Linked DNA regions of Homo sapiens: region 2 is linked to region 1. Evidence: fine-mapped expression QTL. A gene starts in region 1. The other region holds a variant in brackets. All regions are shown on one strand. Distances are from middle to middle.

Evidence for each region. PIP is the estimated chance that this variant, and not a neighbour inherited with it, causes the effect. A credible set is the group of variants that fine-mapping cannot tell apart.
Region 2: its variant is the best candidate, but not a certain one, in a credible set for the expression of LAMP3 in lung (TOPMed, PIP 0.86).

Annotation. Positions count from the first base shown.
Region 1 is chr3:183,161,613-183,164,518 of GRCh38, reverse strand. LAMP3 (lysosomal associated membrane protein 3) reads left to right here and starts at 1,785. Exons shown (of 6, transcript NM_014398.4): 1 at 1,785-1,912. The coding sequence starts at 1,864. RefSeq lists a silencer at 1,575-1,784 and an enhancer at 2,397-2,606.
Region 2 is chr3:183,129,828-183,132,733 of GRCh38, reverse strand. The region is part of intron 5 of LAMP3 (lysosomal associated membrane protein 3); the gene reads left to right. Among named protein-coding and RNA genes, the nearest start is that of LAMP3, 31 kb to the left of the region's middle. The variant A/G (reference allele first, on the strand shown) is at 1,407.

The sequences.
Region 1 (2,906 bases):
ACACAGCGAGACCTCCTCTCTACATAAAATAAAATAAAATAGCTGGGCGTGGTGGCACGCGCCTTTGGTCCCAGCTACTCAGGAGGCTAAGGTGGGAGACTCACTTGAGGCCAGGAGGTCGAAGTTGCAGTGAGCCGAGATCACGCCACTGCACTCCAGCCTGGGTGATAGAGCGAGACCCTGACTCCAAAAAAAAAAAAAAAACGATATTGTGTGTTTTTTGTTCCAGGATTTTCTGGTCTGTAAAACCACCTGGGGCCAGGCACAGTGGCTCACGCTTGTAATCCCAGATCTTTGGAAGGCCGAGGCGGGCGGATCACCTGGGGTCAGGAGTTTGAGACCAGCTTGGCCAACACGGTGAAACCTGGTCTCTACTAAAAATACAAAAAATTAGCCGGACGTGGTGGCGCACATCTGTAATCCCAGCTACTGTGGAGGCTGAGGCAGGAGAATCGCCTGAACCCAAGTTTGCAGTGAGCCGAGATCACGCCATTGCCCTCCAGCCTGGGCGACAGAGTGAGACCCTGTCTCAAAAACAAAAACAAAAACAAACAAACAAAAACAAAGAAAGAAAAAGAAAAAAGAAAATAAAAAAACACACTGGGAGTGGGCATTATTATGTCCGTTTTACAGCTGAAGAATCCAAGGCTCCTAGAGGTTCCCCGACGCCGCACGCCGGGGAGTCGGCAGCGCGAGCTCCCAGCCAGACCTAGCGCCTCTGGGCTGTGCTCCTGTTGCTTCCCGCAAACCGCGGTCCTGGCGAGGCCTGGGCGTGGAGCGCGGCTGCCGCAGACTCCCTGGGAAGACATGGAGTCAGGGTGCTTAGGGGTTTTTAGGCTCCTGCTCGCCTAGTGGCTGGCTTTCTCCCGGCTGAGAAGCGTCTCTGGGTTCCCAGAAAGGTACCCGAGCTGTTAGAAAAGAGGAGACCCTGGGCCGGGCGCAGTGGCTCACGCCTGTAATCCCAACACTTTGGGAGGCCGAGGCGGGCGGATCACAAGGTCAGGAGATCGAGACCAGCCTGGCCAACAGGGTGAAACCCCGTCTCTACTAAAATACAAAAATTAGCTGGGCGTGGTGGCGGGCGCCTGTAACCCCAGCTACTCGGGAGGCTGCGGCAGGAGAATCGCTTGAACCAGGGCAGTGAGCCGAGATCCCGCCACTGCACTCCAGCCTGGCGACAGAGCGAGACTTTGTCTCAAAAAACAAAACAAAACAAAACAAAACAAAAGAAATAAAAAGAAAAGAAATAAAAGAGGAGACCCTGGCCGGGCTCGGTGGCTCACGTCTATAATCCCAGCACTTTGGGAGGTCGAGGCGGGCGAATCACGAGGTCAGGAGCTCGAGACCAGCCTGGCCAATATGGTGACACCCCGTCTCTACTAAAAATACAAAAATTAGCCGGGTGTGGTGGTGCATGCCTGTAATCCCAGCTACTCGGGAGGCTGAGGCAGAAGAATCGCTTGAACCCGGGAGGCAGAGGTTGTAGTGAGCCGAGATCGCGCCACTGCACTCCACCCTGGGCGACAGAGCGAGACTTCGTCTCAAAAAGAAAAGAAAAAGAAAGGAGGAGACCCAGGGTATGAGCGGAGGAGGCCGGCGCTGCCGGGACCACGCGCGTGCGGTAAACGGTCCCAGAGGCCCGGGCCCCGGCGGCTGCGCCGAGTCCCCGCCCCTCCCTGCTCCGTAGGGGTAGGAGGGGGCCGGCGGAGTTTCCCTCCCCGCCCAGCGGCCCTGGGCGGGCTTTTCGGCTGCTTCTCATAAGCAGGTGGTTTCGTTTCTCCGGCACAGGTAGGTTTCTCTGGCACCGATTCGGGGCCTGCCCGGACTTCGCCGCACGCTGCAGAACCTCGCCCAGCGCCCACCATGCCCCGGCAGCTCAGCGCGGCGGCCGCGCTCTTCGCGTCCCTGGCCGGTGAGTGGCCCTCAGCGCTTCCCGCGGTGGCCCTGACGTGTCGGTCCCCTTTCATCTAAACGCACTCTGGAGTCCCGGGCGCCACAGGACGGGCTGCGGGTAGGGAGGTGTGGCGCGTCCAAGGGCTTCCCAGCTGGAACTTGTTTTCCGTGAGTTACTCAGAGCAGGTGTCAACCCCAAAGACAGTGACACTGTCCCTCGCTTCCAAAAGGGTTCTGGACACCTTCTCAGGGAGAGTTTGTAGAGGTCACTCGGATTTAAGAGATGGAGACCTGAGCTAGGGTTTAGGAATGGGAGTCTTGGCTTTGTTATCCGGGAAAAGCGCTCCTGTCTTGCTTTTCCTTGCATCAGATGTGGTCTGACAGATTGTGCCATTTCAGAAAGGTGTAGGAAGAGTGTCAAAGACTTTTTTTTTTTTAAATGATCATTGTACTTCCCATCCCAGATGCCGTCTGGGACGCTGAGTTTATGATTATTTTATGATCCGACCCTCCGCTTTCTCCAGAGCTTTTCCCCCTAGACATTGAGTCCTCGGGTGCTGTGGTGTTGTCCCTGTGATGAAGTTTCCTGGTTACTCGAACGTCATGAGAGAACTGTCTCCGTCCCTACCGCCCGGCTAACATGCTCAAGCAGGGGGCGCGGTGGCCCTTGCTTGTAACATGAATGCTAGGAATGTTAGGGAAGAGGTGAGAAGGGTCGTGCCAGCTGCCCTTGCCTAGGCAGTTCTCCCCTGCGCCACACTTTCACACTTACAGTTTCAGGTTCTTTTAGGGGACAGAAGAGGAAGTCATCATCACGCTCCACAGGGCAAGCTATTAAAAAAGCAAAACAATCTCAGCCTAGCGGTAACCCACAGTGACCTGTATGTGAGCGCTCCTTGAATGGATGGATAGGCTCAGAAACACAATGGTATTGACAGGCCAGGCGTGGTGGCTCACACCTGCAATCCCAGCACTTTGGGAGGCTGAGGCCGGCGGATCACTTGAGGTCAGGA
Region 2 (2,906 bases), 32 kb after region 1:
GTCTCGTTGCCTGTTGCACCCTCCTGAGCTGATTAGGAAACCTAACTTTCCACCAAAGGGCTACCGCAGTGCTGGGAAACAGCACCTCCCCTACTTCCTCCTGTTGCTTTGGGGAGGCCATGCCAGGTGTGCTTGATGCCCTCTGCCATACCTGAATATACCAGTGCTGGCTTCCGGAATTAGGGGCAATAGGCAGAGACATGAGTGGGGTGCTTGTGAGAAGGGAGAAAGCGAAAACCCGGAGGGAGAATTGTGGGGAAGACGTTTACAAATTGACTGATTTTTCTTATACATTTTCAAGAGTCCTGATTTTCAGTTTTTAAAAACATTACTTTAAAAAAACCAATGCATTTCAAAGTTGATTACAAAATGATTTTAAACTCCTGGATTTTACCCAAATTTTGTTTACTTAAATTATAGATGATCTTAATATGCTATTATTTTAAAAAAACATATCCTACTCTATTGTAATGTATTATCAGTTTAAAAAATTAGGAAACTGCCTATTTCACTTTTTTAATTTAAAGCACATATCAAAGATCATGGCAAAAAAGGAGGGGCTCAATAAATGTTAGCCCTTCAGTTGCTTCAATTTCATGTGTTGTCTGCCTTCTTAGCTACTTTTTTCCGGGTTTGTCGGCTTTTCTTTGATGTTATTTTATTCTTGTAAATGTGTCCATTTGGACCATTGCAGGACAGGAGGGAGACAGAGCAGGGAGACAATATGGAATGGCAAGCAGGAAGAGGTAGACCTGCCTGGAGGATCACTCACTTCCCTTTTACGCAAACATTCACCAAAAGCAGTACATTCCTGATGGGGGACGGTTGATATCTGAGGGAAAAATTCTATTAAAATATGGCTTAGGATGTTATTCATGGTTTCCTATTACATTGATGGGGGTTTTTCATTCAGAGAAAAAGGAGAGGTATGTTCTTAATTGATTCTACTGACTGGAAGTTTTCTTGTTTTTCCAAATTTTCCAGAGGTGCCATTCATTATTTTTAACATGACATTTATGAAATTTGGCAACAACTCTAAAACTACTGCCTACTTAGGAAATGTACTGACTCTCCCAGGAGGCATTTTTGCTCTCCTTGTTTTCTTAGAATTGGGGCTGTGGGGAGGGCACACCGCAGCTTCAAAAGAGCACTAAGAGCCCCTGAAGACATCCAGAGTGTCAGAAAATGTCTGTTTCCCTCTTAAAACAGATGTTGATGACAATCTGATATGAGGACCCGGGAGTTCCCCAAAGAGACTCGGGCTTAACAGCAAGAGCTTGGCTTTGGAGAGCTGTGATCTCCTTCCACCTCCTCCTTCAAACTGGCACCTGCTCCAGGCTCCCCTGTGTCCAGTGTTAAGGGCACTCGAAAGTTCTGTAGGGCAGAGGACAAGGTGTTTATTCACC[A/G]GCCACTCACTCTTCTGCAGAATGATTAATGTAAGATTTACCTTCTAGCATGTGGAAATTTCTCCCCTAGCAGATGAAACAAGAAGCAGAATTTAAAATCAAGTATAGAGGGATATGACCACTTAAATTTAATTTTCCTCCCTACCTTCTTCAGTGAGTTCTTTTGGATGATGGCCACTGCTTGGACTCCTGCTATCTATTCCCCCGACCCCAGTACTGATTATTTTTAGAATTAATTTGAATTAGCATTCTGGTAACCACAAAAAGCAAAGGTTTCATTGGAATGGCCAGTAAATAAACGCTTGGATGTGTAATTTACTCACAGTCCTGCCCACTTTCCAGGTGGAGAGCAGAGGGGGCAGTGGAGCTGGGCTCCTCACCTGCCTCCCCTCCTAACCACACACACATTCACCCTAAGAAGCCTGTGATGAGAGGGAAAAAAATTCTGTGAACTCCTCCATTACTAAACCTGGAGGAAAAAAAAAAGAGTGGGTTGCTTTATTTTCTTCGTTTTCCAACCTAGGGTAGTGAAAATGGCTCCCAGGAAGACTGGGAAGAGTAAAGGGAGGGACAGACGGAGGTGAACTGGGGAAGAAACCCCAAAGCAGACGATCGCTCCAGGCTGCAGCTAGTTTCCATGCTACAAAAAAGAGAATAGAATCCAAATATCTAACCCAAAGGGAAACATTAACTGATCTCAGATGCAATGGAAAGAAAGACCATAATTCACCCAAACGGCATCATAGGAAATGGAGTATCTCGACTGCCACGCTCAAGCATGAGCAAGATGAAAACAAACTGCATGGCCACTGTGCCAAAATACTGCAGCAAAATAAGAATAGTTTGAAATTAAATTAAGAAAAGGAGTGAGGCCAGGCACGGTGGCTCACGCCTGTAATCCCAGCACTTTGGGAGGCCGAGGCGGGCGGATCATGAGGTCAGGAGATCGAGACCATCCTAGCTAACATAGTGAAACCCCGTTTCTACTAAAAACACAAAAAATTAGCCAGGCGTGGTGGCAGGCGCATGTAGTCCCAGCTACTCGGGAGGCTGAGGCAGGAGAATGGCGTCAACCCGGGAGGCAGAGCTTGCAGTGAGCCAAGATGGCACCACTGTACTCCAGCCTGGGTGACAGAGCGAAACTCCGTCTCAAAAAAAAAAAAAAAAAAAAAAGGAGTGAGGGTGTATTAGTTTGCTAAGACTGTCTTAGTAACATACCACAGTCTGGATGCCTTAAATAACAGAAATGTATATTCTCACAGTTCTGGAGGCTAGAAATTCAAGGTCAAGGTCTCAGCAGCATTGGTTTTTCTGAAACTTCTCTCCTTGGCTGTAGATGGCCTGTGTCTTCACGTGGTCTTCCCTCTGTACCTGTCTGTATCCATATGTCCTCTTTGTGTAAGGATACCATTCATATTGGATAGAGGCCCACCCTAATGACCTCATTTTAACTTACTGACTTCTTGAAAGACCCTGTGTCCTAATACATGTTCTGTGGTC